Regions from separate parts of the Homo sapiens genome. Here all the other regions are linked to region 3. The links come from fine-mapping of genetic effects on gene expression. A gene starts in region 3. Each other region holds a variant in brackets. All regions are shown on one strand. Distances are from middle to middle. Region 1 overlaps STRA8 (stimulated by retinoic acid 8). Region 2 overlaps WDR91 (WD repeat domain 91). Region 3 holds the start of WDR91 (WD repeat domain 91).

Region 1 (10,859 bases), 42 kb before region 3:
CCCTCGGAACCCTCGGACCTCACTGTAGCTCCTGTTCAGGTGACTTTATTACCAGGAGCAGCAGATGAATCTGGTTCCACCCAGCTGTCCTGTGGCACAGGGTTGAGGTCAGCACTGCCCCTGGCTCTCAGAGTGTGCAGGATGAGCAGGTGGGCTGTGGAACTCTCTAGAACCCATCAGGGCAATGCCCTGTGCCCAGGACATGCTGAAAGTACCTGGTGTTATGTCACCTCCGAGGACAGATCCTGCCTGTCCTCCTTGAAAGGCCCATGGCCTGGGCCCCAGCTGTACTTTCTACCCCCTTAATAGGAGCACAATAGCAGCAGGCCAGCCCTTTGTGCCAAACAGTCCCTAAAGACCAACACGAGGCCGTGCTTCTCTTATACTTTATAATAATCAGAAACTAAAATCATCAAAATGCTTCTGGAACAACCCACTCCAAAGAGTCCTGGAGGCCAAGGCAGGTGCAACCTTAGCTGCCAGCATTCAACCTTGGGAACTGCCCACCTCATTCAGTCCCTCCCCTCGCAGCTCCTCTTCTGCATTACAAATCTTCATCGTCAAAGGTCTCTGTGCACTGCAACATGATCATCTCTTCATCAACGGGAAAGGATGCTTCCTGCAAGACACAGGGTGGAAGAGGGTCACTTTTTATCTGTGGGTCTTGGGCCCGAGGCAGATAGGAAGGCTCCTGCATCTCCGGTGTGCCCAGCCCCCAGACTCTATCCTACGTCTCTTCCGCTGCATTTTCACCTCCAGCTTGGGCCAGGAAGCAAGGGCTCTAAGGGGGGAAGGTCCCATTTCCATTTCACTCAACTCAGCATTCTATGACCTCCAGAAAGGACACAGCAGAACTGGCTTCTTTTTTATCCTGGGGATTTCCAGGTTCCCACAAGAGAGACAGAGGACCTCATAAGGCTTTATCCAAATGCTCATCAATAGAAGACGGTGCACTGCACCACGGTGCTCCCACCAATGAAACACCATGCAGCTCATTTCCAACAAAAATAATGAGACAGCGTGCTCTCTGTGGGATACACTATTTACAAAGGGCAAAGTGCAAAGCAATGTGTACCGTAGGCTACTACTATTTGTGTTTGAAAGAATATATAATATCTGTAGAATATCTTTGGATGAGTGTACAAGAAACTGGTCACTGTAGTTGCCTCTGGGGGAGGGTATGGGGTAGGAAGCAAGGAAGAGAGAGAGACTAAGTGTCCATTGTATATCTTTTGGTAACTTGTAAATTTTATGCCATGTATATGGGTTACCTATTAGGAGATGATATTTTTTTAAGCAGCAGCACTGCAGCTGGTCATGATGGCTCAATGCCTGTAATCCCAGCACTTTGGGAGGCCAAGGCAGGCGGATCACCTGAGGTTAGGAGTTCGAGACCAGCCTGGCCAACATGGCGAAATGCTGTCTCTACTAAAAATACAAAAAAATTAGCTGGGCATGGTGGTGTGCGCCTGTAATCCCAGCTACTCGGGAGGCCATGGCATGAGAATCACTTGAACCTGGGAGGCAGAGGTTGCAGTGATCCAAGATCACACCATGACTACACACCATCCTGGGTGAAAAAAAAAAGCAGCAGCACTGTTTGCTTAGCAAGGGTTTCTCAGTCCCTAAAGGGACACTGTAAACAGTGATCCCAGCCAACACCTCAGGACTCTCCATGACTTCTTCCTCTAAAAATATGTTCCTGAGGCTTTGCTCCTTCTGTCTGTCTCCATCCTAGCAGAAAATGACCCCTGTAACTTGTCAGCCCTGCAGATCAGAGTTGATCCCCATGGAACCAGGTGGCATCCCTGACCCCAGTCAACCATCTAATGAATGTGGGACCTGGTCCCAAGGGTGATATCCTCATAGTGGGGACGACCTCCACAAACTGAGCCTTTCCTGCCCTGGAGAAGCAGTTCCCATTCACCATGCTCTCCTGATAGGGGCAGGGAAATAGGGATCAAGAGTGTCAGGGAGGTGGGACCACAGTCTCCAGGCAAATCTTGTGGGCCCCTTGTTCAGCAGGAAGACAGTGGCAGAGGTTGGGAGGAGAATGCAACTTTTCTGTTTACACCAGAGTCTATCAAAGCCTGAGTCCTCCTGCCCCAGAGCCACTTGGACAGCTCATTCCAAATGCAGATTTCTGGGGCCCGTTCTTGCAGCACTGAGGCATCGGGAATCTAGGAGTGCTGAAGTTTGGCATCTTTGCTTTGTTCTGTTGTTGTTGTTGTCTGGAGAGAGTCTCACTCTGTTGCCCAGGCTGGAGTACAGTGGCTTGATCTCAGCTCACTGTAACCTCTGCCTTGTAGGCTCAAACAATCCTCCCAACTCAGCCTCCTGAGTAGCTGGGACTACAGGCATGTACCACCACACCCAGCTAATTTTTATATTTTTTGTAGTGGTGAGGCTCTGCCATGTTGTCCAGACTGGTCTTGAAATCCTGGGATCAAGTGATCTGCCCACCTCAGCCTCCCAAAGTGCTGGGATTCCAGGTGTGAGCCACTGCACCCGGCCATACCTTTGCTTTGTATGGATACAAGAATCCCTGCTTGTTATCTTTTCTGCCATATATGGAGAAGGAGGGGAGGCAAAGATTGTCCTTTTCGTCTATTCTCAAAGTCTTGATAAAGTGGGCTAATTTAACTGTATCTGAGAGAAAGAGGGGACAACTGGTCCAGGGGACTGTCACCCAAGGATTGGTGGGAAGGGGAGAGCAAACTGCAAGGAAGGGCTCCACATAAGGATTCACTGTGGTCCCAGAAGAAGGAAATGAAGACTTAGTTGGAAAAGGGCAAGTTATACCTTAGCCTATTGAACAGGTGTCTTGACTATTTTTAGACAAACATTTGCTATTATTATAACTTACCTTTTAAATAAACAGTTGTATTATTGCTAAACTAGTAAAGAAAAATCCATGGCTATGAATTTGAAAGGACCTGTCCCCTTGTGGCTCAGGTATAACCCCCCTTCTCTGACAAAAGCTTCCAGGAATGGCCCTCCTAACCAAGAGTCCCACTGCTCATATCACTGTAAGTGGAACAATTTGGAAGCAGACATTAATATCCTTCAAAAGCTGACAGCAAATATTACCGAAGGTGATGAAGACTGTAGAAGATGATGAAATAGCCCAGCGTTTTGGGAAGGTGTCAAAGGTTCACACAACATTTATGAATGCCTGCTGAGAGTCAGGCCCCTGGGATCGGGTTCCTGCTTCAAAGGGCTCCCAGTCAAGGTCTGCCTTAGAGCAGTGGTTCCCAACCTTTATGGCACCAGGGACCAGTTTCACGGAAGACAATTTTCCCACAGACCTGGGGGGCAAGGGTGGTTTCAGGATGAAACTCTTCCACCTCAGATCATCAGGCATTAGTCAGATTCTCATAAGGAGAGAGCAACCTAGACCCCTTGCATGAGCAGTTCATAATAGGGTCTGCACGCCTATGAGAATCTAACGCTGCCACTGATCTGACAGCAGGCAAAGCTCAGGCTGTCATGCTCACCCTCTGCTGTGCAGCTGTGTTCCTAGCAGGCCATAGATCTGTACTGGTCTGTGGCCTAGGAGTTGGGGACCCCTGCCCTAGAGGACACTTCTCTGTCTTTCCTGTTTCCCTGGCTATCTTCCATTCATTCTACAGGATGCATCAGGCTGAAGGTGACCATTCATGGAGCAAGCCAGAGAGAATGGAGAGTGTCCCTGCCCAGTGGCTCCTCATGGTATGATTGGGGTGAGTTCTGGTTAGGGCTGCCCTTAAGAGCCCTTTTTGCTATCTAAGCAAGGTGGGCAGAGGTACCACGGCCCTCTACTCCATCCTACCTGCTTTACTTGAGTGTTTGCACAGCTAAGGCCTTTAAAAAAGTTGATGATCTGCATATAGAGCTGAAACTTCTCCTCTGGGTTTTCTGGGTTGCAGCTGGCAAGCACTGAACTGACAACAGAAAGGAAGAAAAGGCAACAAATATTCAGGATCCTGATCTTTCAACTCTGCTTCCCCCTCCCCTGAAAGATTTGGGTTACAGTATGAACCAAGCACATGTAAATTCTCAGACAGCCCAGACCTCTCCTTGAAAGGTTTGTGTTACCTCTGCTCACATATCATGTCTGGAATCCCCTGGAAAATCGAGACTGTGGTGAGACTGGCTCCTGTGCCCTAATTTAGTGTTCTGAGCTGTGGCCACTGGAACAAGGGAACGAGAGTTCCTCTATCCCTCAATCTTCTGCAGAATGCCCCCACAGTTCTGGTTCCACTGTGGCTGCTGAGGCAGCTCTGGAGCACGCCGCACATCTTGAGTTCAGTTCACTGAGTTGCCACTGCTCAGTGGGTCTAACGTGGAACTCAAGCCCTGGTGCAGAAAGGAGGCCTGTTGTGCAGGCTCTTTTCCTCCTGCCTGCCTGGGACAAGGGGAGAAGCCCTGTGTGACTCGAGCTTATGTCACCATAAGCAGCACAGTTTGGAAGCAGACATGAAAATCCTTCAAAAGCTGACAGCAACTGTTATTGCAGGGCCTCAGAAGATGATGAGTTAGCTCAGCCTTTAGGAAAGGTGGCAGGGGCTCGTGCAACATTTAGGAATGCCCGCTAAGAGCCAGGCCCTGCAATGTGGACCCTGCTTCAAAGGGCTTCTTAGAGCACAGAGGCTGTGTGTCTGTAGGACAGCTGGCACTCACTCACTGTGAGTCAGCAGGCAGCCCTCACTTCCTCCCGGGATGAGGAACCCTCTGGCAGCAACCCCTGACTTTTCTAGGG[G/A]AAGTGGAACATTTTTAATAGGTTGTTTTTCTGTTCCATCAGCAGGGCAGGGAGTTCTGAATATTGCCTGGCAAGGACAGGCTGGCAGCTTCTCGATGGTTGTCTTTGCAGTCCAAGCTCAGCACAGAAACAGGAATGTGTCTTCCAGCCAATTGCAGCAAAATGAAACTCCACTCACAGCTGAGAAGCACTTGAGTCACTCTGTAAGGTCGATTTGGAGAGGACAAAGCCCTCCTCTGACAATCCCACTTCTCCCCAAGTCCATCTAGGCCTGGGTGGAACAGGGAGAATGGAGGGAAAATGTTGATGTGTGGTTTCCCTGAAGCTCTGCTGAAAGGCCAGCTGGGTTACTAGGGACAGCTGTGGCCCCAAGGCCTCACAGGCACCCATAGGCCAGGCTCCCCTTGAGAGGACAATGAGATATTCATTGGGATCACAAGGATATGTCCCTCTCACCCCCAAAGCAGAAAAATAAATGTCCAGGATTCTTTTTAGCCATGATAGCAGCACAGGTATCTGAAGAACCTGTGCCTTCAGGCTCTAAGACCACAGGTTTTTCAAGCAAAGCAGCAAGGGAATTTCAGTCCTAAAGGATTTCTCTCAGAAAACACACCTTTGGGACATTGTTAGTCACGCTGCTTCTTGTTTTAAAATCTTTTCACATCCTATTTTGTGTCTTCCCACTTCATGGGGTCAGCTATCCTTTTCTCCCCTCCTTCCATATCCGTTCCCATCAGCACCATGAAAAGCAGCAACCCCCCTTTGCAGAACTCAGAGAGTCCCCTAAACTCAGGGCCCATGCCTATTTGCATGTTGGCCCTTATTCTCTGTGCCCCAGAGCCCCCTCCCCGCCTTCTCCTTCCAGGTCAGCTGGGAGAACCTGCCCGCAAGCTGCCCTGGGTGCTAGAGACCGATGGATTGTGTTCTTCCGAAATTCATATGCTGAAGCCTAATCCCCAGGGTGATGGTGTTAGGAGGTGGGGGACTCCGGGAGATCATAGACTAGGGCATGAAGATGGGCCCCTCATGATGGGATTAGTGCCCTTATAAAACAGGCCCCAGAGCCAGGCGCTGTGGCTCACGCCTGTAATCCTAGCATTTTGGGAGCCGAGGTGGGTGGATCATCTGAGGTCAGGGGTTCGAGACCAGCCTGGCCAACATGGCAAAACCCTGTCTCTGCTAAAAATACAAAAATTAGCTGAGCATAGTGGCATGCACCTGTAATCCCAGCCACTCGGCAGGCTGAGGCAGGAGAATCACTTGAACCCAGGAGGCGGAGGTTGCAGTGAGCCAAGATCACACCACTGCACTCCAGCCTGGGTGACAGAGTGAGACTCTGTCTTAGAAAAAAAAAAAATTTTTTTAAAGAAAGAGGTTCCAGAGAGATTCCTTGCCCCTACACCATGTGAATTTTATCCAGAAGGTGCCGTCTGTGAAAAACCGAGCCTCTGACTCTGCTGGCACCTTGGTCGTAGACTCCCCAACCTCCAGAACTGTAAGAAATACATTTCTGTTGTTTATAAGCCATCCAGCCTATGGCATTTAGTATATAATGGACTTAAGGCAGGGATACAGCAGCCCTCAGTGGAGGTTAGCAGGACTAACACACACTGGGAATGGGGTGCAAAGTGAACAGATGAGTTTCCACAACCTACAGCTGATAACCTGGTATGTCCCAGCCCTGCGCCAGGATGGAAGAATTTTCTACTCTGAAGATGCCACAGATAGTGTCATCCCCAGGGCAATGACACAATCCTAGGACCAGCTCACTTCCAATCACAGAAAAAAGGTGGATCCCCAAGAATACCCACTGAATTAGGCACCAGATCTGATTTGGCTCTGTGTCCCCACCCAAATCTCCTGTTGAATTATAATCCCCATGTGTTGAAGGAGGGGCCTGGTGAGGGGGTGTGTGATTGAATCATGGAAGTGGATGTCCCCCTTGCTGTTCTCATGACAAGAGTTCTCACAAGATCTGGTTATTTGAAAAGTGTGTAGCACTTCCCCCTTCACTCTCTCTCCTGTCACCATGTGAGGATATACAGGTTTCCCCTTTGCCTTCCACCATGATTGTAAGTTTCCCCAGCCATGCCTCTTTTACAGCCTGTGGAACTGTGAGTCACTTAAACCTCTTTTCTTTATAAATTACCCAGTCTCAGGTAGTTCTTTGTAGCAGTGTGAGAATGGACTAATACAACACCCATCTAGGGACTGCAGAGGAGAGGCCCCTGAACACCCCAGCAGGGGTGCACACACACACACACACACACACACACACACACTCTCTCTCTCTCCCTCTGTCTCCTCTCTCTGTCTCTGACTTACCACATTCATGCACATGCAAACTCACACATACACACCTGCGCACACACAATCTCACATCCACCCACACAGGGGCACATGCTATCTCACACCCTCTTCCTCACCTGGAGCTAGATGTACTCGGAACCTCACTTTTGTCCAGGAAGCTTGCCACATCAAAGGCATCCTCAAAAAGGATCTGAAAGAAAGCACAACACTTCATGTGTTGGAAATAACTTGACAATTTCATGCTTGCCCTGGGCTGCTGGGGAGAGATGAGTGGAAAGGCTCTCTCTTTACACATACCCCAGAGGGCATGCATGTCAGAGCTGGGGCCCACACCCAGGGGCTCTGCTTGCTGTTCTTCCTAGGGGGTAAATGCTAAACTCTAGAGTGCCCAGGACAAACTGCCAACCCTGGAGGTGGCTGTGAGGGACAGGAAGAAATGGGGATTGTGATTCCTCTTGCCGACGAAGGTGGGAGCTCAGGTGTGAGATGCAATTACCAGAGCCTCAGTTTACCACTGAGAAAAACCTCATCAAAACTTCCCAAGGCGCACAGATTATTGGAGCCCAGGGTCCCCAGTCTAGCTGTCTCATGCCAGGACAGCTGAATCCAGAGGGTCAGGAAGGCTCTGGGTTAGGCTGCAGGCAGGCCAACTCCCAGGCCTGTGTCCCTTGCTAGCTGTGTGACCTGGGACAAGTTACTTCATCTCACAAATCCTCCTCTATAAAACAGGAATCACATTAGTGTCTACTCATAGGGCTATTCCAAGAATTAAGTAAGATAATGTATGTGAAGTATCTAGTTACATTTGAACATTATCCACTTTATAACAGACATACCTGGCACATAATTGAACATTATCTGCTTTATAAGAGACATACATGTTCATTGTGGAAATTTTGGAAAATAGAAACAGATCAAGAAAATAAGAATTACTGAGAAACAATCCCACCCAGATATCCATTGTTGACACATTGATCTAATTCTCTCCAGTCACTTCCCTAGGTCTATAATATATATTTCCAATTTGGAATCTTGCTATTTAGACAGTTTTTCATCCTGCTTCCCCCTAATGTGTTAGAGAATATTAAATATGTTACAGAAACATGATTTACACTTACATGACTGCCAGATTTAGCAAATACAAATACGGGATGCCTAGTTACATTTTGAATTTCAGATAAAGAATGAATAATTTTTAGTATAAGAATGTTTTGAATCATGCATGGGACGTTTTTGTATTAAAAATTGAACTGGGCATGCTTTACTTTAACTGACATCTCCTTTGCACTGGCAATCACGCCTAGGAGAGGAGAGGAAGTTCTCTGACCCTGAGTTGGCAGGTACTGGCAGGTTCCGCCAGGGTCTCTCCTCTCCTCTTCCCTTCCTGCAACACACAGCTCTTCCAAGAGGATTGGTGTCTGCCCTTTCTGTCTTCCTTCAATTGACTTCCTGGAACTGAATCCCTTGGGACTCTGGCCCCTCTCTTAGTTTTCCGGACATTTTCTGTTGTCCTTCTACTTGATATCTCTGTGGTCATTTCAAAGAGGATCTGGAAAGGGGCCACAGAAAGACCTGTGCTTCAGTGTCCATCAGCTCTGAAGCCTATCAGCTACATGTTGCTCCCTGGCAGGCCTGAAACAGGGACCCAGAACTGAAATCCCTGTCCTTAAGCAATCAGCCCACCAAAGTCGCAGGCCACACATTGTGCTCACCTGTGCAAATCCCCCTCACAAGCCAGCCTGAGAGGGGACCCCAGACCAGGCTCCACAGCCTTTCCAGAGTGCCACCACACTCACAGGGAAGCTCATGTCTGAACTGAAATGGAGCATTCCAGAGCCTCCTGGGCCCATCTGACCGTGCTGCTGGCCTCTAACACAACAGTTCTGCAGCAGAACCTCTCCAGGTGGACCAGGGGCTGCAGTGGTGTCACTGCTCAGCAGGAGTAACTGTGGCTTTGTCCCTGCCTCGGGCATGGGAGTTCTCTGTTCTGCCTACCTTATCGCCCAGCCCTGGCCTGGCCTAAACCTGGGCACAGCAGTGCAGGCAGAGCCCTGCTTCTGGCCACAGCTGAGGGAATCTGCTGCCAGCTTCCCTTAATACCCAACAAACATCAGCCCATAGGCCTCCCTGAAAAACCCAGAAAAGCTGTTTCCATGATTTGGAGACATTAGATTCTGGTTGTTTTCTCTTTGGATGTGTTCTTCCTGGGGAAGTGTTCGTGCTGGCACAGTCAAATTTGGCAGAATTGCTCAGGCATTTGGTAGATACTGTCATGCATCACTTACTGATGGGGATAAGTTCTGAGAAATGTGTCCTTAGGCAACTTTGTCATGTGAACATCACAGAGTGTATTTATGCAAACCTAGATGGCATATATACATATATTTATCTTTTCTTTTTTGAGACAGAGTTTTACTCTTGTCACCCAGGCTGGAGTGCAATGGTGTGATCTCGGCTCACTGCAACCTCCACCTCCCAGGTTCAAGCGATTATCCTGCCTCAGCCTCCAGAGTAGCTGGGGTTACAGGCACTCGCCACCACGCCCAGCTAATTTTTGTATTTTTAGTAAAGATGGTGTTTCACCATTTTGGCCAGGCTGGTCTTGAACTCCTGACCTCAGATGATCCACCCACCTTGGCCTCCCAAAATGCTGGAATTACAGACTGGCATCACCACGCCCAGCCCATATATTTATTTATATATATTTTTTCATATGGAAAACCAAAAATCCAAGTTCCATTACTGAATATCAATTATTTACCCTACTTGATGTGCAATGCCAATATCGAGTGCCATATATCAGGTTTCCATATATGCTCCATTATCATCTTATGTGACCACCATTGTATAGGTGGTCTGTTGTTGCCCAAAACATCTTTATGTAGCCCATGACTGTATTTTCCTTTCGTTTTCTTCATGTGAGACTCCAGGGCTTGGCACTTTGGGGCTGTAAACACATCTGTTTGGCTGCCCTTTCATACAAGCCTTGGGTATGAGGTCCTAATCTTCTGGCTTTTTTTGAGCCATCATGGAACAGAACGCATGTCTTCTCATGGTGGACCCAACATCAGAGGAAAACCAGATCAGAAGCCACAGTCTGGTGGACCCATGTTCGGGGGTCGGGGAAAGGACCAAGGCAGTAGCTGGTAGGCCATTGAACATCTGCACTGGGAGTTCCCTCCAATAGGACCTACTGCACTAGCCACGAGGGAAGCTTGTTAAAAATGCAATTCCTGAGGCCCCACCCTCAGAGGCTCTGATTCAGTGTGTCTGGGATAGATAGAGTCTTGCTGTGTTGCCAGGCTGGAGTGCAGTGACACAATCATAGCTCACTGCAGCCTTGACCTCCTGGGGTCAAAGGATCCTCCTGCCTCAGCCTCCTGAGTACCTGGGACTACAGGTGTACCACCACCACACCTTTTTATTTTTTTTTAGTTTTTAGTAGAGACGCAGTCTCACTGTGTTGCCCAGGCTGGTCTCAAACTCCTGGGCTCAAGCATTGCTCCCACCTTGCTCGGCCTCCCCAAGTGCTGGGATTACAGGTGTGAGCCACTGCGCCCAGCCAGGCACCTGACTTTAAAAAAAAACTCCACAGGTGATTCAGTTGAGAAGCATCAGGGGAGATAATGGAGGGTTGACCATCAACAGGTGACCAAAGGGCAGAGTAATGTGAAAAAATGTGTGATGACAGAGACACAGTCACTGAAGCAGGAGCTGGGAGTTCTGGGCAAGTCACACTGCTGGTTAGGCCTGCAAACTGGAAGGACAGGAATGGGTGACATCTCTGTCGTTCTCCAGGCTTGGGCCT
Region 2 (10,360 bases), 24 kb after region 3:
ACCAGAGGGCCCCTGTGGTTGATTATTTAGGAGAGGACTCGTGCCTCCCTCTGACATACTGTTACCTTAAAATTGTATGAGAATTATAGCAGCAGCAGCCAGCAGTAGCAAGGACACATACAGATTCGTAAGAAGCGAGGTGACCAGACAGCCTGTGAACTTGCTCCCAGGGGACCTGGGCACCACCTCAGAGCCAAGGACCCCTTCCTTCAAGACAGTAATAGATGCTGCAGCTGCCACCCTGAGCCCCAGAGAGATTGAATGATGCTAAACTCACCTTCCAAGGCAGTGCTACTTCTTATTAAAATGATTCGTTTCACTGCTTACAAGTCATATGGCCTTTATGTTGAACACATTGTTTCCTGATGCTGCTGGAAGCTCAAGGCTCCTGCTTTCAGTGGGTTCCTGTTCCAGATGTTCAGTTTGTTCTGTTCTGCATCTGCCTGTAGAAGTGGTCTGTGTTCCCTTTGGGTCTGTCAGACCTCTCAGGCCCGTCAGGGTCACACTCGAATTCTTGACCTCCACCCCTTGCCACATCCATCCCTCCCCTCATAATTTTCCTCACTTTGGCAAATGTGCCTCACTTAGAAATTGGGGATCTTGGCCAGGAGCAGTTGCTCATGCCTGTAATCCCAGCACTTTGGGAAGCTGAGGCAGATGGATTGCTTGAGGCCAGGAGTTCAAGTCCAGCCTGGGCAATGTAGTGAGCCCTTGTCTCTACAAAAAACTTAAAAATTAGCCAGGTGTGGTGGTGCTCACTTGTAGTCCCAGCTACTTGGGAGGCTGAGGCAAGAGAATTGCTTGAGCCTGGGAGGTGGAGGCTGCAGTGAGCTGATGTGGTGCCACTGTATTCCAGCCTGGGTGACAGAGTGAGACCCTGTCTCAAAAAAAAAAAAAAAAAAAAAAAAAAACACAACAGAAATTGGGGTTCTTCCCAGACCTGTCTTTTTCCCTCTGCTCACACAGTCAGTCCATAAGCAAATGCTGCCAGTGTGTTTCCAGTCTGACCACTTCTCTGCATTTCCAGGGACATACTCTAGACCTATCTCTCGTGCCCCTCCCTGCCCACTGTCCTCTCCACCAGTTTAATTCAATTCCTCTTAGTTCATAGCATCTTGTATTTTCCTCCAAAGTTCTTATTACAATTTGTAATTATATGTTTACTTGTGATTTTCAAGTTTTTAATTAGACATTGAATACATACAAAAGCATATTGAAATCATAGGTGTATAGTATAATGAGAAGAAAAGCAGTACAGTGAGCACCCACAGACCCATCACAGTTTATACAGAACATCACCAATACTTTTTAGCTCTTGTGTAGCCCTTCCCAGTCTTGGTCTTTTTCCCTTCCAGAGAGAACCTGTCTTGAATTTTGTCATACTGTTGCCTTACTTTTTTTTTTTTTTTTTTTTTGAGATGGAGTCTTGCTCTGTCACCCAGGCTGGAGTGCAGCGGCACAATCTCTGCTCAGCACAACATCCGCCTTCTGAGTTCAAGCAATTCTTCTGCCTCAACCTCCTGAGTAGCTGGGATTACAGGTGCCCACCACCACACCCAGCTAATTTTTTGTATTTTTAGTAGAAATGGGGTTTCACCATGTTGGCCAGGTCTCGAACTCCTGACCTCAGGTGATCCACCCACCTGGGCTTCCCAAAGTACTAGGATTACAGGCATGAGCCACTGCACCCGGCCTGCCTTACATTTAAAAAATTACTTTATCATGTCAATTACTATATATCCCTAAACAACCGAATTTTTGTTTTGCAGGTTTTCTGACTCCATATGAATAAACCACAGTATATGTGTTTTTCTAGAATAGCTTCTTGTATTCCAGGCTGAACACTGCTTCCCTAACCTTGTGACTTGGTCCATCCTCTGGCTGCCTTTGCTGAGACCGGGACATTAGCTCTCCATGTAATTGGCATTCCTTTGTTGTCTTTTCTCTCTGGCTGCTTTTAAAATCTTACCTGGTTCTCTGGATGTGGATTTTCTGGTTCTTAACTTTTGAAATTAATTTTTTTGAAGTTTTGCTTGGGATTTGTTTTCTGAATCAGAGGATTTGTGTCTGTTCAATTCTGGAAAATTCTCAGTCATCATTTTTTCCAGTATTGCTGTTCTCTGATCATCTCTTGCCTTCTGGAACTCCCATTCCATATGTGTTAGAACTTGCCTCTTCCTCTTTTTTGTTTCACTTTGCTGCATTCTTGATAATAGTTTCTTCAGATCCATCAGTTTGCTAATCTCTCCTCTACTATATCTAATCTTCTGTTTCATCTATTTATTAGGATGGTAATTTCAGTTATTGTGTTTCTCATTTTTAGAAGCTCACCTTCATTTTTTAAAACCTGCTTTGTCGTGTTTATAGTCTCTCATTTTTACCCATATTTTCAATTCCTTATTTTATTTTGTTGAACAATTGAATGTGCTTGTATGTTCTCATTATAAATCTAATGTCTGAAGTCTTTGTGGGTCTGATTCTGCTCTGTTGTCTCTGTGGGTGCTGGCTCCTTTTGCCTTATTTTCCTGTTTCTTATGAATTGTGATCATGGTGTTTTTTGGGCCAGTATCTCTGAGAATATTTTGAGGCCTGGGTTGGAGGTGCATTTCTTTGGATTTGCATTAATTTTTGCCAGGTTCCTCCCACGTCAGGGCTAGTTTGTGGTTATGAATTTGCAGGGAGGTAAGTTTTCTTGTTATCCCTTTCTGTGAAGTAGGTTTGTTTCTAGTTCATTCCTGCACTGAAGGTATAGCTCTTTGGAGTCTCAGCTCCATGTGACGGTTTCTTATCGCCTGACCTTGGGCAGATCACACATGGTTGTCTCCAGGCTCCTGAGCTCCTCATGGGTAGCAGAATGGGAACTTGAGTCATCTGGATCTGATTAATTCCCCATAGTGAAAGCCGGCTTTGGAGTGCACTGGTTCTCTGCGTTCTTGCTTTCTCTTAGTTGTGGCCCTAGAGGATTCTTTTATTTGCTAGCTCAGTACTCTGTGTGTATTTTAAATAACATTCTATCTTGCATTTTTAATTTCAGGAGGATTATTTAGTGTTCCCAGGGTTTCATATTGTTTGAAATGATAGTGTTCATTAATTATGTAATTAATAGACATTATGTTCTATGAGGTGGTTTTGTTTGCTACTATATTTCTGAGTGTTTCTGTGGGGAGCCATAGGGCAGGTTTATTAGTGTTGTCTGTCATCAAAGGCAGTTGATGAAGTGTTATTTTCTGAGGGCATAAGACTTTTCAATGAGAATTTGCTTGGAATGCATTCTGGGTGAAGTGTAGGTTGCTAAGATATGTATTATTTCTTTTATAATGGAGCAAGCATGGATTATCATTTCTCTATGGAAACCAGAATGTATTTAGGCACAGAGAACTTGTTCTCAAAAGAGCACAGAAGGTCACTGGCACAGCACTTTGGCAAAGGCTCAGATCTACATTTCCAGATTACATAAGGGAGGAGCTGGTGGAAAACCCAGTCTGGGGCACCTGTCTGCATTGGAATAAGCAGCGTGCCTGGGCTGAGTGAAGATCTGCTACTGACATTTTTGTTTTATTTCAATAGCTCCAGTTCTCCCTGGATCCAGAACCCATTGCTATCAACTGTACAGCCTTCAATCACAACGGGAACCTGCTGGTCACAGGGGCAGCTGATGGCGTCATCCGGCTGTTTGGTATGCAAGTGTGCTCATAGCAATCCTTGATCTCCTTAGATTTCCCAGGCAATTTTTTTTGCCGACGTTGGATTTTTTTGCCAGCTGGGCTAGAGGCTTTTGCAAAACCCTGACTTCAGATGCATGTACTACAGCTTAACTTTGGTCAACGTTTTCAAAACACCCACCGTAATAAACTCGCCCATAGTTAGTGTCAATAGACATGGGAGGGGGTGGAGCTCAGCGGTCCTTGAGTCTTGAGTTGTTCCATCTGAGTCCTTGTCACCCATGTGAAATACAGGAGGGCATACAAGAGTACTGCTGTCCTACCTACTTGCTGTGGGTAGTTGATTCTCAAAAGCATCAGAACAGTGCTCCTTAACCAGAGGCATACATCAGAATCACCTGGCATGCTGTGTAGAAATCCCCAGGTTGGGCTCTGTCCCCAGGAGACATCCCCAGAGCCTGGGCTGGGGCAAGGCAACTGTATCTTTAGGGGATTCCCAGGGCACATGGGGAAGTTACAGAGGGGAGTTTCTCAGGTGTCTTCCTAGACTTAGGGCTCCCCAGGTGAGCTCCCCCCAGGGACTCCTGAGCCTCACTTCTGACCTGGTGAAAGAAGCTGCCTCTGAGGCTTAGAAGCAGCCTGACCTCTTGGGCAGGGGCAGCTTTATGGCGCTCATTGGGTCCTGGGTGCCTGCCCTTGGCTTCCAGAACAGCTGTCAGCCTGAGTAGAGGGTGAGGGGGCCTCCTGCTGCAGGCAGATTCCTTCTGCAGAGCCCTGGCCAGGATGTGAGTGGCCGTGTCTCATTGCCTCAGACATGCAGCAGCATGAGTGCGCGATGAGCTGGAGGGCCCACTACGGGGAGGTCTACTCTGTGGAGTTCAGCTATGATGAGAACACCGTGTACAGCATCGGCGAGGACGGGAAGGTAGGCGGCTGCAGGATTCAGATAAGAGAGCACCGGGATGACATGTGGGCCGGCTGCAGGTTGTGGCCATACCTGTTACTAGCTCTGCAACCTGGGGCCTCTTTTTGCAGCTTTGTTATCTGTAGAATAGGGATAAACTAGTAATTCGTCTTACAATCTTTGCGAGGTTTTAGTGAATTCAGTGGGAGTTGGCTATCCTTATGAAAGGAAGTACCAAAAATTACTCATCTTACCATAGATGTATCTGTGGGGTCTGGATTTAGGGCTGAGTTTGCTTTGCTGGGCTTGGTAGTGAGTGGTCCCAGGACCACTCATGGATGTGTAGTTTGCTGAGTGGCTGGGTACAGCTTCTTAGATGTGTACAGACCCCAGCAGAGCCCAGAGATGTAAACAAGAAGCCAGAAAAAAAGGAAAAGTACATGCCCCTGGTAGATTCCCTCTGTGGAGGGTTAGGAACTAGGAATAGTGACTGCCTCAGAGGGGGAGCTGGCAGGGGCAGAGATGGGAGAAGGATGCCCTTTCCATGTGTGCCTGCCTGGACTTTTGGGATTGGACACTGTCTATCTTTTTATCCCTTGAAAGGAGTAACTACAAAATAAATTCTTCATTTGAAAAGTTTGGGAAGGGACTTTTACATTAAAGCTCGACTTCCTTGTTATGTGGGATGCTCAGTGAAGAGGTGGTCACAGCCAAGTATCCTGTCCGTAGGGTAGGCTAAGGGATGATGTCTGCTATGATAAGAAGCTGAGTTTATAATGGCATCGCCCAGTGTTCAATTGATTATATGCCTGAAACACTGGAAATATATGTGGACTTTGTCCTCTGTACCTTGTTCCTAGGATAGAAAAATCTAGTTGGGGTCTAACTCTGATAATAATAATAATAATATGTCACTTGAAGCATTCCTCCTGCTTGAGAGACCAGGAATCCAGGCAAAGCCACTTGCTGTCCCTTTTCCTCTCCTAGGGTCAGGCCAGAGAGAAAGAGAAGGGTTGGACTTTAATGTGAGGTTGCTGCCTCTTTTTCTAGATTTTCTTCCCTAAAAAATGCTTAAATCATGTTGACCAGAGATAGGACCTGTAGACCTCTCACCCACTTTTCTGCCTCTGGCACTTGAAAGGCTTTTCAAGGATGTCAGCACTGTGGCTGGGGGAGGCGGGTCGCCCTCGCCAGCCTCTGCTGTGGGGTGGGTCCTGGCTCTTCCTTGAGGCCTGCATTGGCCAGCTCCGCTGCGAGCACCCTGCTTGTGCCCTGTGACTGCAGTTCATCCAGTGGAACATCCACAAGAGTGGCCTCAAGGTATCCGAGTACAGCCTCCCCTCAGATGCCACGGGCCCCTTTGTGCTGTCTGGATACAGCGGCTACAAGCAGGTTCAAGTCCCCAGGGGCCGACTCTTCGCTTTTGACTCGGAGGGAAATTACATGCTGACATGTTCTGCCACAGGCGGCGTCATCTACAAGGTAACTGATGGTTGGGGGTGGGAGGTAGTGGTATTGTGGTGGGCAGGGGTTCCTCCCTGGAGGTCTGGGCCATGGCTACTGAGCGAGGCCCTCTACCCCGAGCTGCATGGCTGTGGAGATGCCTTTGACAAAGGATCGCTGGCTAGCTAGTGCTGGGGTTCAGAGGAGAGCCATGTTTCTGCACTAACTGAAGGCTCCCCTGTGGCCAGCACTGTTCTGGGTGTGGCAGGCTGGCCCCCCGGCAGGAGAGAGCTGCCCGAGGCCCTGCTCTCCTGCAGCTTGCATTCCCCAGTATGGGACATGAACCTTCAACAAATAAGCAGATTCATGAGCACCTGCCAGGTAGTGAGAAGTGATGCTGTAGTGAGAACAACCAGTGTGCGTGCAAGAGGCACCAGCCCACAGCAAGTTCAAGGCAGCTGAGAAAATGCCTTTTTTTAAGGAGCCGCTCAGGGACTTGTTTTCCACTTCAGATGGACCAGCTGTAGTTGGGAAAGTGCAAGCATTTCCTGGTTCAAAAAGTTAAACAGACTTTCTGGAAAGGTGGGCATGTGTGTCTGGCCTCAGGCACATCCTCAGGTAGGCCACTGAAAGTGGATCAAGTGTGTGTAACTGGTGTTTGCTGACACCTCCTCCTCTTTCCTGTCCTCTTGCAGCTGGGTGGCGATGAGAAGGTTCTGGAGAGCTGCTTGAGCCTAGGTGGCCACCGAGCCCCTGTGGTCACCGTGGACTGGAGCACTGCCATGGACTGTGGGACCTGCCTCACCGCCTCCATGGATGGCAAGATCAAGCTGACCACCCTCCTGGCCCATAAAGCCTGATGACTTGCCCCAAGGGCCACCCGAGGAAGCAGTATTATCTGCGGTGGGGGGAGGAGATATAGGACAGGAAAACCACGTGCTCCACTCCAGCTCCCTGCCAGTGCAGTGACTCTGCAGGGAAAGACTGGCAAGGAGGCTCAGGTGCTTCCATCTGTGGTGACTGGAATGGGACCCACGTGGAGTAGGTGACATATGCTTCCCAGAGACTGGTATTGTGGCTGTGCCAGGAGTACATGTGAGACTATGGGAGGAAAGCTCCGGAAGAAGGAGAAACATTGCAGTGGCTACTGTGTTGGCCCAGTAGAAATTGACAGTATTTTGTATATATGTGCCCATTTATCTTTTTCTTTTTTAAAAAAAGAGAATACTCTTGTGGTCCCCTGATGTCTCTTTCTAGGATGTGTGTCACTTTGCTTCAGTGACAGCCCTCCCACCCAGCCT[G/A]GCTCTGCTGGCCCTGAACTGAACCTCTCCAGGCTCTCCTGTTGCTTTGCCATGGAGCCAGGTCAGCTCTCTGTCTGTTCTGCTGGGTAACAAGGTTTGGCAGTTCCTGTTTCTCTGGGCTTAAGTCAAGGCCACAGAATTCTTTTTCTTCCCTGAAAGCTGGCAGCTTTTGTTACAGAAGATTCTCAGGATGAAGGCAGGGGCTGAGGCCTCTGCTACTGGCTGCCCCTTTCCATCCAGTGGCTGCTGTTTCCCAAGACAGGCTAAGCGTTTCTTATCTGAAATGCTTGGGACAGGAGTGTTACAGATTTTGGATTTTTTCAGACTTTGGAATATTTGCATATATACATAATGAGGTATCTTGGTAGGTCTCATGTCTAAACATGAAATTCATTCATGTTTTATATATACCTTATACATGTAGCCTGAAGGTAACTCTATACAGTATTTTAAATAATTTTGTACATGAAACAAAGTATTGATTGTGGTCAGGTGTGGTATTTTCCACTTGTGGTGTCATGTTGGTGCTCACAGTTTTGGGGCTGGGCACGGTGGCTCACGTCTGTAATCCCAGCACTTTGGGAGGCCAAGGTGGGTGGATCACTTAAGGTCAGGAGCTTGAGACCAGCCTGGCCAACATGGTGAAACCCCATCTCTACTAAAAATACCAAAATTAGCCAGGCATGGTGGCAGGTGCCTATAATCCCAGCTACTCTGGAGGCTGGGGCAGGAGAATCACTTGAGCCCAGGAGGCGGAGGTTGCAGTGAGCCGAGATCACGCCACTGGGAGAACCCAACTCAAAAAAAAAAAAAGTTTTGGGTTATGGAGCATTTTTGATTTTGGATCTTTGGGTTAAGGACGCTCAACCTGTACCTTTTTCATTTGGTGGCTCCTCTCATTCCTCCAACTGAACATCTTTGTGGAAAGATGATGGCTGCCTGCACCCACTGCTGGCGAATGGTGAGAAGGTAGAGCAAGGGGGCCAAGTTGCTGCTGGTGGGCACCTGGGGTTCAGGCCGGCCCAACTGTGGCTGAGCCGATCTGTAGCTGAGCTGAGTGTCAACCAGCTGTGTCCACACCCTGCCTGAGGCCTGCCCTCTCCTCCCTGGCTGGGGTGGGACCTTGAAGAGGCATATCTTCCCACTAGGTGAGGAGGAACAAGAGCCTCACTCCCCTTCTCCCTCTTGCCTTTCACAGCTGAGGCAGAGCTTATGGGAGGAGTCACTATGGGAGTGATGGACCTGGGCTTTGGTCTCCAGTGTTTGGCAGGGGCGACCTTATCACTGAGCTGGGGAAGGCAGCTGCCATGAGTCATTTTAAGTCTCTGAGCTCCAGCCCAGTTCTAGGGGCACAAGGCTGGAGTAGGGATACTCCTAGTTACCTGCTTGAGGAAAAGCACGAAGAAATTGGTACCAAAGTCTTGGCTTTGTTCTGGGAGTTGAGGGAAAAGTAGGGAGGTATTTAAGTGGCTTGATTATGAGAAAACACCAGAGACAGTAGTAAATAGTTATTTACCGATTTTTACCCATTTCTACCCTGGTAATCCTCCCTGCAAATGAAGAAAACCAAGACTTCTTTATTTATTATCTTTCCCCATCTGTATTGAAACAGTGATCTTACTTATCTCACCCAGTGATTCTGTAGGACATTTAAAAAGTGGTCATGGGTTTCATTGGAGTGAGAATGGTATTAACGTTTCCTCTTGTCATCTCAAAGTTTTCTCTCCCCTTAATACCATCTCTACAGCTTGCTGAGATGCTTTAAGGATCACAGAGACACAAAGAAAATTTGAACCCTACGCTTCTCCCATCCCACTTCTTACTCCATCCCGGGTGAGCGCTCGTCCTCAAATAAAGCATGTTGGAACTTCCGCTTATCTCTCCTTCCATAGACCTGCTTGGCGTCTGCTTAAGAACCCAAGCAAGACTCTTCCATTCTCTTGGTTGAGGGTGGCATAGAAGAAAACCTCTTTCCCAGTCCCAGCCTCAGTTCCCAGCCCAGGTGTGGACCCTCAGCTCTGGGGAGGGCTGCACCGAGAGCCTTGCAGGTGCACTTCCCCATTTCCTCCCTCTCTTCAGATACCTGCCGGTATTTGCCTCTTCTGCTCCATGGCCTCAGGCCTTGGCTGTGTTCTGCGAGTTGAGGGAAGCATTTGAATGGGGAGGGCCTCATAGCCAGTCCCCATTTAAATGCTTTAGGAGTTCAATGTAATCTTTTGAAGTATGTATACATTGTGGAATACAGACAATGTAGAATGATTAAATCTAGCTAACTGACACGTGCATTACCTCACATGATAAACAGCAGTTTAGCTGTCAGTTAAAAAAAATCCCCCAAACCCCCAAATGCTTTGGGTGCTGACTCTAATCTGTGCAAATCACACAGTTCAGATTCCTGACCCCTGCCTGGGGCAGGGAGCATCTCTCCCTTCAAATAGCTCTTTTCAGCTGGCTATGGAAAGAGGTTTTAAGGAGAGAAATGTGCAAGGGGTGGTTCTGTTAAAGAAAAACTTAGTCAATGATACTCGTTAAAGTACAGTAAAGACTACTATCTTGATAGGTATAGGGACCACTGCAATGGAGTCTTGCATGTGGGAGAGAGATTGGGCTCAATTCCGAATACAGCGTGCACAGTGGGAATTCATAGCCAAGGAGCAGGGTGGAGGTCTGTGAATAGAAAATTACTAAGAGGAGCCATCAGGGTAAGAGAGATTCTGGTGAAACTGACCTAACAGGACTCTTGCTGAATACAGGCTAGGGTGATAGGCCACTCGGGGATGGTGGAGGGTGAGGAGCCTGATAAGGCTTGGAGGGTGATCAGATACCGAGGGGAAAGGGGTTTTTGCTAAGACTGGATTTTACAAGGAAGTGCACAGACGGGCCTTGCAGAACACTCAGAAGCCTGACCGAAGCTTGGACTAGTAAAGCCTCTTTGTCAGTTCCAATTGCCAAGGATTTTTTTTTTGTTTCCATAAGTGGCAAGGCAGAATAGCCAAGTATTTTCTGTTCCTTTATTCACAAGGAAAAGATGCTTTTCCACCCCAGCCCAT
Region 3 (10,859 bases):
AATATTAAAAAGCCTAAACTCAGAAATCACTTATAAAATCCAACACCTCTACTACCTAGAGCTAATAATTGTTAAGATTTTTTGTGTGTACATATGATCAAGAATATGCAAAGCAATGGTATTGCACCTACAGTTTTGTATCAACTTTTAAAAATTAAACTTATTATTCTGATATAACTATAGATTAATTAACTATAGATTAATAAGCAGTTATAAGAAATAATATAGAGAAAGAAAGGATTTTGAACGTTCACAATATGAAGAAATGATAAATGTTTGAGGTGATGGATATGCTAATTACTCTGATTTGATGATTACACATTGTATATGTGTATTGAAATATCACTCTGGGCCAGGCACGGTGGCTCATGCCTGTAATCCCAGCACTTTGGGAGGCTGAGGTGGGTGGATCTCTTGAGGCCAGGAGTTGGAGACCAGCCTGGCCAACATGGTGAAACCCTGTCTCTACTAAAAATACAAAAATTAGCTGGGCGTGGTGGCTCATGCCTGTAATCCCAGCTACTCGGGAGGCTGAGGCAGAAGAATCACTTGAACCCGGGAGGCAGAGGTTGCAATGAGCCAAGATTGCACCATTGCACTTCAGTCTGGGAAACAGAGTGAGACTGTTTCCCAGTCTCAAACAAAAAAAAAAAAAAAAAAAAAAAAAAAAGAAAAGTCTGTCTCAAAAAGAAAAAGTCTGTCTCTCAAAAAAAAAGTCTGTCTCAAAAAAAGTCTGTCTCAAAAAAAAGAAAAAAGAAAAGAAATATCACTCTGTATCCCATAAATATGTACAATTATTACATGCCAACTAAAAATAAAAGGAAAAAAAGAAAGAAATAATTCAGAGAGATCCCGTTGTACCCTTTATTCAGTTTTCTCCAATAGTAACATCTTGTACAATATCATAACCAGGATACTGACATTTACTGATCTTATTCAAAATTCCCTATTTTACTTGTACGTGTGTGTGTATTTACTTCTATACAATTTATCATGTTAGGCTTGTGCGTCTATAACCACAGTCAAGATGCAGAACAATTCCATTGCCACAAGGATCCTTTGTGTTGCCCTTTTAAAAATCACAACCCTTCCTTCCTCACCCTCCTCCCACGTGCCCATCCGTCTTCATGGCCTTCACTAATCTGTTTTCCATGTCTACATTTTGGCTTTTCAAAAATGTTCTATACATGGAATCATGCTGTTGAAGGACATCTGGGTTGTTTCCAGTTTTGGCTATTATGAATAAAGCTTTGTGTACAGGTTTTTATGTAAAAATCTATGTTTTCCTTTCTCTGGGACAAATACCTGAGTGTCATTACTGGGTTGTATGGTATTTGCATGCTTAATCTTGTAAGAAACTGCCAAATTGGTTTCTAGAGTGTGAATCATAATTTTAAACACATTGTATTATAACTATTTCTCCAAATAATTAAATTATCTTAAAAAACAAAAACTTTGACAATTGCATAATATTACATGGGATAGAGGTAGCATGATGTATAAGATTTCCTCTAATGTTGAACATTTGGTTGTTTGAGATTTCTTTCTCCTTGTAGAAATCAGTAATAAGACTCCTGCATGTGGAACTGGTGTGTACAGACCCGCTGGAACTGGTTCCTGTAGTCCCCAGGAGTGACTAAGTTCTGAAAGGCTGATTTGTGCTAACCTCATTGCACAGGGGCCTGAAGAATATATCACGATGTCACTTTGTAAATCTGAATGAGACATATAACTGTCACACAGGGACTATTCGTGGTAACACTGGCATAAATGATATCCTTTCCACCTATGTTGGAAGACTATTGTAATCAAAAACTGCCTTTTAGTTTACCAGGAGGAAGACACTGGAATGCTATGTTTCCATGTAGTCAAATGCTGAGGACACAAATGGTCTTTTTGTGAGCTTTGTACCAGGAAAAGCGGAGTGGGATGCCTATCGGGGCCCAATTTTGGGATGGTCTAGTGCCACCTTCTCATTTTGGGGATGGCCTTGCCATAGGTCAGAACATAGGACAAGTGCCGGCTGTGTTGCAAATGAGCATGGGCCCTGCCCATGGCACTCTCTGGTTTCTGGGTGCCTGTGTTTAAAACCTCTTCCGACTGACATAATATTTATTTTGGAAGTGAATGTCCTCAACCAAGGCCAGTGAGCCTAATATCTTTTCTCTCTCTTTCCACTGATTTTGCATCCTTGGACTCTAAACCATCTTAGGTTGATTTTGCCGTTTAACTCTCAGTGGGAAGTACAATTTCTTCATTCCCAAGATCTTGGAGGGTAACTCACTGTAGCCTCTAAATACTTATACCTTTCACTATTGTAAATAACTTCCATTATTAAAGATAAGTTGCACTTTTATTAAAAAAAACCCCATTCTGCATAAATCTTATTTTTAATGTTTAAATTAATTTACTTTCTTTTTTAAAAAAATAGAGACGGGGTCTCCCTATGTTGCTCAGGCTGGTCATAACTTCTGGCCTCAATCGATTCTGCCACTTGGGCCTCCCAAAGTGCTAGGATTACAGGTGTGAGTCACTGTGCCCAGCCTTTTTTTTTTTCTTTCAGCTTATTTTTAAAATTATTTTTTTAAGGGAAATTAAAGAAATTAAGTGGGATCACTGGGCTAAAGAGTAGAAACATTTTGGAAGCTTTGATAATCTATAAATTGACTCCTAGAAAAGTAGCTCCTTCTGAAGCTTAATGACAATGCCCCTTTCATTTTATGTTCACCAACAGTGGGCAATACATTTTAAAAATTACTAATTTGAGAAGTGAAAAAGGGTATCTATTGTGTGTCACTGATTTTCAGTGAACGAAAGATTAACATATACATAGGCTGCCTCCTACAACAAGCATGAGGGCTACCAATAGGAAACCTGTGAATTACTGGATGGATCATTGTGGGCCATTTCCAGTTTTCAGAGGTGCTCATGACTTTTTAAGGAACTGACTACAGTAAGAAAAGATTTATCTACCAAAGGCTATGGCGATGGATGCTCTCTACTGAGCATGTAACTTGGCACTATCTATGAACCAGACAGTGGGCATCCAGCAGACAATGAATCTGCTAGTGTCTTGATTTTGGACTTTCCACCCTCCAGAACTATGAGAAATAAGTTTCTGTTGCTTATAAGCCACCCAGTTTATGGCATTTCTAAAAAAAAAAAAAATTGCAGCCCCAAAGGACTAAGACAGTGACATTTGAGCAAATGCGTGAAGGAGGAAAGGCAGCTATCCCTGTGGGTATCTTGGAGAAGACATTCCTGTAGAACAAACGGCTTGTACTTAAGCTCTGAGGAGCTGCCTTTCATTGATCAGAAAACTAATCTTAGCTGGTTTTACAGGCTCTGGTCTGGGAAGTGTCAGGGCAGATGGAGGTGGGGGAGGTGAGAACTATGGTTGCAGACTTCAGGTGCCCTTAGGGAAATCTACTTCACAACTTTCCTGTAGGTGGAAGCTTTGGTGGTTGCAACTTGTCCAAATTTTCCAAGTTCACTTTGATGATCTGAGATCTCAAAGTAGGAGTTGGTCTCCCAGTAGTCACAGTGGTGACTCTCCTTTCCTGCCCTTGAGGCAAGTTTAGCTGCCTGGAGGGTACACTTGTGGAGACAGGTAGGGCAAACAAAGAGGGCAGAACAAGGTCTGTCTCGTCCTGCTGTGGCTTGCCCTGTGCTATCTTTTTGGCTTTCTCTAGTGTAGATCAGAGCCCTTTTGGAGCTGAATTTCCATAGAGTAGGAGTGGAGGGTCTGAGCAGAGGGGCAGCAATGATTCTGAGTTGTATTTTGACAAACACGAAAAGTCATACCATTCGAGGGAAGGAGAAGGGAACACTCCATGCATTTTACCAATAGGCCATTCACTGTGCTAAGCGTTTTACATACACTGTCTTATTAAATCTTCATTACTACTGTGCAAGGTGGGTGTTATTGTCACCATTTTTTTTTTTTTGAGACGGAGTCTCGCTCTGTCGACCAGGCTGGAGTGAAGTGGCGCGATCTCGGCTCACTGCAAGCTCCGCCTCCCGGGCTTACGCCATTCTCCTGCCTCAGCCCCCCCGAGTAGCTGGGACTACAGGCGCCCGCCACCACGCCCGGCTAATTTTTTGTATTTTTAGTAGAGACGGGATTTCACCGTGTTAGCCAGGATGGTCTCGATCTCCTGACCTTGTGATCCGCCTGCCTCCGCCTCCCAAAGTGCTGGGATTACAGGCGTGAGCCACCGCGCCCGGCCTATTGTCACCATTCTGCAGAAGCAAGTCTCAAAGATATTGGCTATTTTCCTACTTACAAAAATACGTGCACCTTGTAAAAACTTCAACAATAAAAAGAAAGTAAAAAACAAGAAGTCCTTCATAGTCTCACCTCTCAGATAAAACCACTCCAATTGTCACTTGGTATCTGCAGGGGGTTGGTTTTAGGACCCTCCCTAGAAGACCAAAATCCATGGATGCCCTGATGTAAAAAGGCCTAGTATTTGCATCTAACCTATACACTTCCTCCTGTATACTTTAAATAATCTCTACATTGCTTATAATACTGAATACATTGTACATGTTATGTAAATTGTTGTTATGCTATATTTAATTTGTGTTTTTAAAAATTGTATTCTTTTTTAAACTGAGACGGTGTCCTGCTCTGTCACCCAGGCTGGAGTGCAGTGGTACAATCACAGCTCACTGCAGCCTCGACCTCCTGGGCTCAAGTGATCCTCCTGCCTCAGCCTCCCAAGTAGCTGGGACCACAGGCAGCACCACCACGCCCGGCTAATTTTTTTTTTTTTTTTTTTTTGAGACAGAGTTTCGCTCTTGTTGCCCAGGCTGGTATGCAATGGCGCGATTTCGGCTCACTGCAACCTCCACCTTCTGGGTTCAAGCGATTCTCCTGCTTCAGCCTCCCGAGTAGCTGGGATTACAGGCATGCGCCACAACGCCCGGCTAATCTTGTATTTTTAGTAGAGACGGGGTTTCTCCATGTTGGTCAGGCTGGTCTCAAACTCCCGACCTCAGGTGATCCGCCCACCTCGGCCTCCCAAAGTGCTGGGATTGCAGGCGTGAGCCACTGCGCTCCGCATTTTTTTTTTTTTTTTTTTTTTGTGGAGATGTGGTTTCGTCATGTTGTCCAGGCTGGTCTCCAACTCCTGGGGCCAAGAGATCCGCCTACCCTGGCCTCCCAAAATGTTAGGATTACAAGTGTGAGCCACTGCGCCCGGCTATTTTTTATTTTTAAAACTTTGGAAAAAATATTTTCAATCCTCGTTGGTTGAATCCGTGAATGCGGAACCCGAGGATGCAGAGACCCGACTGCATAGGAACTTGGTGTATAATCTTCCTGAATTTAAAAAATGTACACACATACATACCTAATTTTTTTTTCACAAGAAACCAGGACTATAGCGTACATACACTGCTATGAAATTTGCCTATCCTAGCAGTGCATCTTGGTTATCTTGCTGTGTAGCCAATTCGTCTTACTAATGAAAGCAGAGATTTGGGGGAGTTAGCGCTCTCTGAGGACACGCGTGTTGTGGCTTCACGCAGGTCACTCTGCTCTTAGGGCTCCAGCTTCCTCCGTGTAGGAGGAGGGCAGGGGACCGGGAGCTCTGCGATGTAACGCCAACCAACAGGGCGCCGCACCCCCTGCCCGCCTCGGGACTACCTGGGATGTTCTTAAGATCCAGTCTTGTTTGACGTGGGTGGCAGCCGCCACTTTCAGTAATTCAGACAAAGCCGCCGCCGGCGCCGCCAGGACCTCCCCTCGCCACTCCTCGGGAGGGGTAAGGGTGACTCGAGCGGCCAGGCGGGCTGGGGCTGGCTCAGGGGCGGGGCCTCGGGCGGGGAGCCGGCCGAGGGGCGGGGCCTCAGGCTGGTCGCCCAGTGCGTGCGGGCTGGTAGGCCTGTCGCGGCGTGACGTGCTCGGCGCCCGCGTCCGGCCCCGCCCCATTTCTCCCAGGCCCCGCCCCTCCGTCCCTCACCGCACCACCCCTAAAGACGCTAGCGCTGCGATGGCGGAGGCCGTGGAGCGCACTGACGAGCTGGTCCGGGAGTACCTGCTCTTCCGCGGGTTCACGCACACACTGCGGCAGCTGGACGCCGAGATCAAGGCGGACAAGGAGAAGGGGTTCCGGGTGAGAGGCCGGCGGGAGCGGCGCGGGCAGAGGCGGCCCGAGGGAGCCGGGGAGCGGGCTTCCCCCCAGCACTGCCTCCGGGGCGAGAGCGGCGCTGTCACTCGCGCCGGGGCGCCGGAGACCTCAGCGCGTCCGACCCCAGCTTGACGGATGAGGAACTGAGACCCTCAGACGGACAGGACCTGCCTGAAGCCGCCCCCCGAGTCAGGAGCATCGCCGAGGCTGGAGCCCCGATGCCCCGGCTCCTGGTCTAGGGTTCTGTCTCCACTCCAGCCTCCTTGGCCAGGATGGCGATGAGGTTTTAGGAGCCGAGGTTAGGTAGATGGTTGCGTTTTGGCAACAGATATTCGTGTTGGCTTCCAGTGGCAGTGGAAGCAAAGAAGTCTGCAGTCCAAAACGTTAGCTGCGTTCAAGTATCTGCGGTGTTTGTTTAAAATGGCCTCGTCAGGGACTCATCGGCAATTTTGCTTCTGCAGTTGTGGAAGACCTCATGGCACATTAGAGAAACCCAAACTTCCCCTGCTCTAAAATGATTTTCCATTGCGAGGTTCTTGGAATGTATATGTGTGTGATTTGTATGTTTGTGTGTACTGACTTCAATGAGAGGCAGTGAGCTAACAGCAAGAGCACTGGAGGGGAGTTAGGAGATCTGGTTTCCTGCCTGGCCAAAGTTAGTGGCTACTTAGTGGCAAAAGCAAATCATTTCACCCCTCTGGGCTTCAGTGGCCTGATCTATAAACTAGGGGCATTGGATTGGTATTGATATCCAAACCCTTTTCCAGATTCTGTACTCTGCTGTAATTGCTCCTCACAAGAAGGTGACTTCCTTGGCTGACACTCTGAGCAGCTACCACGGCTTCGTGGAACTTTGATGACTTGAAGGAGTCAGTCCATGCACCTCCTCATGATCCTTGGGATCTGGGAATTGTGGAGATTGTCTCATAGCTCTTCTTCACCCCACCCCCTTTTTTAAAAATGTGAGGTAACTGAAACTACAGTTAAGCAACACTGCCATTTTTTTTTCTTTTTTGACAGAAAGTCTCACTCTGTCGCTTAGGCTGGAGTGCAGTGGCACGATCTCAGCTCACTGCAACCTCTGCCTTCTGGGTTCAAGCGATTCTCCTGCCTCAGCCTCCCGAGTAGCTGGGATTACAGGCGCGTGCCACCACGTCCAGCTAATTTTTGTATTTTTAGTAGAGTCGGGGTTTCACCATGTTGGCAAGGCTGGTCTCGAACTCCTGACCTCAGGTGATCCATCCACCTCAGCCTCCCAAAATGCTGGGATTACAGGCGTGAGCCACGGTGCCTGGCCTGATGACACTGCCAAATTGATCAAGTAAGTCAGAGGCAGATCCAAGATCTGGAGCCAGATCTCTTAGGTTCTGGGCCAGAGCCCTTTTACACCTGAAATTTCCGTGCTTGCTAGAGGGTCAAACCACTTCTCTAACATCAGAAAATTACTGAAAAACCGTTGCATTAGTATGTTTTGAAAATTTTATAGATTGCTAACTTACAAATTTTTTTTTACACCCAGAAGCCATGACAAGAGGAAAAAGCTTTATTCCATGGAGGGGAGAATTCCCTTCTGTCCCTTACCACCTTCTCCATCCATGTTTCTCGCCAGGTGGATAAGATTGTGGACCAGCTGCAGCAGTTAATGCAGGTGTATGACTTGGCTGCCCTTCGGGATTATTGGAGCTACTTGGAGCGTCGGCTCTTCAGCCGCTTGGAGGATATATACAGACCCACAATCCACAAGCTGAAAACCAGCCTGTTTCGATTTTATCTTGTCTACACAATCCAGGTGCCTGTTGATTCAGGGGTTCTGCTTCCCTTGGTGGAAGGAGCTCTTTGATCCCAAAATAGATTTTCTTCCAGTTCCTAGGGAGGAATCTGTATGTGACTATGGGAAAGAGTGCAGCAGTTACAGTGCAATTATTTTTGACTGTTTTTCTTCTTTTTTTTCCTTGTCGTCATCTGTAGATCATCTGACTTGTCTTCCCCATTCCTATTTCCTTTTTTATGTTAAGCATGTAAGCTTAAAACAAAGGTGGTATTTTAAAGAATATAAGTAGCTGGGTTAAAGTTTGAGTAATAAAGATGATAGCTGACCTGGAGGAATGAGTCACTTAGTTATTTGAACATCAGCTAGGGATTAATTTTTAGGATGGGATTTATCATTAGAACTTCAGCTTAAACCAGCTTTGAAATGACAAGTTCCTTGAGAAAAGAGTGATGATTTCCTTTATATTATGGAATTTTATTTTGCCACTTACCTGGCAGGCTGATAGTCAAAGGTTGTCTGCTGTGCAATGATGAAGAGTCTTACCTCTGGATTTCTGTCTCTCCTCCCTCCTTGCTACCTCCTTGTGTCTTGGCAGACAAACAGAAATGACAAGGCTCAGGAGTTCTTTGCAAAGCAGGCCACGGAACTCCAGAACCAGGCTGAGTGGAAGGATTGGTTTGTCCTGCCCTTCCTGCCATCCCCGGACACCAACCCCACCTTTGCTACCTACTTTTCTCGACAGTGGGCTGACACCTTCATTGTGTCCCTGCACAACTTCCTGAGCGTCCTGTTTCAGTGCATGCATATCCTTTCAGTTGCCTGGGGCTGAAGGCCCAGCCTGAGGCACCCAGACCTCAGGATCAGTAGCCCGCTGGTCTCCATACAGGCATTTCTTCTACAAAAATGCCCAGGGACCATTTTTATGGGTCACATGAGGGGGCTGGACAAATTGTGGTTGTTTTTGTCAGTAAGCCAGGGAATCATAAATCTTAGTTCTGACACTGTGCTGCTGAAGTATTAGCTGACGTGTGGGCAGTGACAGTGGCAGCAGTGGGGTGCTAGTACTGGCTTTGTCAGCAGGCACTGGGGTTGGAAGGCAGCTGCTGCTTGGAGAAACCGGGCAGCCTTGAGAGTACCCTCTCTGTGCATGAAACGTGTTCCCGGGGATATACCTTTGCTGGGATTAGGTACAGATGAGAAGACTTCTTGGGTTGGAACTTCTGTCTGTGTTAGTGTTTGGGTTATTGTCTCTAATAGTAACTTCAGTGTTCCTCAAGTTGCCAGAGAACACAGTAGCTTTAAGAATATATATGCGGGTATTGGAGAGGGGGAATGAATGAGAATGCAGGTAAATAATTTACAGCCTACCAAGTGTACAAGCCAGAGCTCCCAAGGCCATTGTTCATGCTCCCTAGGCTGGAAATTTAGAGGAGGAGAAGGGAGTCTGGCTTGAATGGGGCTGGCTGGTGAGGCACTGATAAACTTGGGTGTTTAGAGGCCCACCCATGGGCAGGCGTTTTGGCCTCTGGGAGGAACACTTTCTGGTGGAGGTGGGAAGGGCACCTTTCCTGCCTTCACCCTTTCTGTGCCCCAGATGAGTGTGAATTCCACCCTTGCCAGAACTGCCTTGTTTCTTCCCCGTTGTTCCCTCTCTTCATCCTGAGGGCTCTCCAGTTAACTTTGTGGGCCCTCCAGTGAAATCGAAACTGTCACTCAAGATCTTTTCAGTGCTTCTCAAACTAGCTTACACACATATGGGCTCTAGTCCCCTCTCCAGTTCTGAGGCCCTGTCTGCTCTGTGCTCCTCCTAACTGAAGCTGCCTGAGGCAGTGGAGAAGGACCAGTATCCCAAGCTATAGACTGTCGTTGTTCTTGGGGTGGCCACGCAATCTGCAGAAAGCTTTCTCTTCTCAGTCCAAACCTTTGCCAGGGAGAGGCTCAACCTGGGGAGGCGAAGCCAACTGACTGGTCTTTTCTGCCTCATTGGCTGTATTACTGCAGAGCCACTGGCCTCCAGGGCTGCTTTTAGCTGAATGTAGTGACCTCACTAAAGCTCAGACTGGCTGTGAAGTCCACTGGATGCTAGCTCTTTGCTTCTGGTATTTGAGAGAAAATGCTTAGGTTTGGATTTATGTCCCCTCTGTGGGCTGGCCAGGCAGATGGTCATGCGTCTGTGAATCTGTCCGAATGAAATGAGGCCAGACCTAGAGAAAGTCTTAGAGACAAGACTGTAGGGAGCGACTATTTCATTAAGCCCGCAAGAGCCCACAGCACCGCTCCTATACTCTGTTCTCTGTGTCCCTGTGTCTCATGTGTTTTACTGGTGTGTCAAGGGTTTGGGAAGGACGTTTAAACATTTCAGGGGCTGGCTTATTCTTTAACTTCGTGCACCAGTCCCTGTGATCCTGAACTTTGATGCGGAGTGTCAGAGGACTAACCAGGTTCAAGAAGAAAATGAAGTTCTGCGTCAGAAGGTTTGTTCTGAACAGGCTTGCTCCTGAGGAAGTACTTCTGCTTTTTGTGTGTGAAATTAGGTAGTGGCAGTGGAACACTATATTAATCAGGTTTCCACTGCCACTACCTAATTTCTCAGATGGAAATGAGTCACCAGAAAGTCAGTATTGGGGATTTGGAGAGTAACAGTCTCTGAAAACCAGAGGCGAGATTCATATTTTAAGTCAGATATGTAGCATGAACAATATAGTAACAGTAATTAACTTTTAAGGAGAAAAAGACTATATGCATCCATGCCACCTTATAACTAACCTGTTTTCATGTGTCTGTTTTGTCTTTCCACGTATAGCTATATATGTGTGTATATATATATACACATATATATGTAAACTATATGTATATATATAAACTATATATACACACACACACATATATATAGTTTATAACCCATATATAATTTAGTTGTTCCTACTCAGCTATATGCTTCTCTAGTTTGA

What was found. PIP is the estimated chance that this variant, and not a neighbour inherited with it, causes the effect.
Region 1: its variant is fine-mapped to the expression of WDR91 in whole blood (TOPMed, PIP above 0.99). The same link has a PIP of 0.9 or more in blood mononuclear cells, macrophages, monocytes, monocytes after LPS, monocytes after Pam3CSK4 and monocytes after R848.
Region 2: its variant is fine-mapped to the expression of WDR91 in whole blood (TOPMed, PIP above 0.99).

What each region holds. Positions count from the first base shown.
Region 1 is chr7:135,248,178-135,259,036 of GRCh38, reverse strand. STRA8 (stimulated by retinoic acid 8) reads right to left here. Exons shown (of 9, transcript NM_001394401.1): 7 at 7,168-7,241; 8 at 3,812-3,923; 9 at 374-619. The coding sequence ends at 545. LOC107984123 (a long non-coding RNA gene) reads left to right here. Exons shown (of 6, transcript XR_007060540.1): 6 at 1-1,324. Among named protein-coding and RNA genes, the nearest start is that of STRA8, 20 kb to the right of the region's middle. RefSeq lists a silencer at 8,354-8,504. The variant G/A (reference allele first, on the strand shown) is at 4,742.
Region 2 is chr7:135,182,660-135,193,019 of GRCh38, reverse strand. WDR91 (WD repeat domain 91) reads left to right here. Exons shown (of 15, transcript NM_014149.4): 12 at 3,568-3,676; 13 at 4,475-4,587; 14 at 5,851-6,048; 15 at 6,705-9,181. The coding sequence ends at 6,869. Among named protein-coding and RNA genes, the nearest start is that of CYREN, 17 kb to the right of the region's middle. RefSeq lists enhancers at 4,146-4,275, 4,316-4,535, 5,917-5,966. The variant G/A (reference allele first, on the strand shown) is at 7,311.
Region 3 is chr7:135,206,643-135,217,501 of GRCh38, reverse strand. It overlaps WDR91 (WD repeat domain 91), which reads left to right and starts at 5,976. Exons shown (of 15, transcript NM_014149.4): 1 at 5,976-6,122; 2 at 7,747-7,926; 3 at 8,504-8,711; 4 at 10,300-10,382. The coding sequence starts at 6,000. It overlaps MIR6509 (microRNA 6509), which reads left to right and starts at 10,424; the gene lies at 10,424-10,508. RefSeq lists silencers at 5,734-6,273, 10,433-10,592 and an enhancer at 7,444-8,643.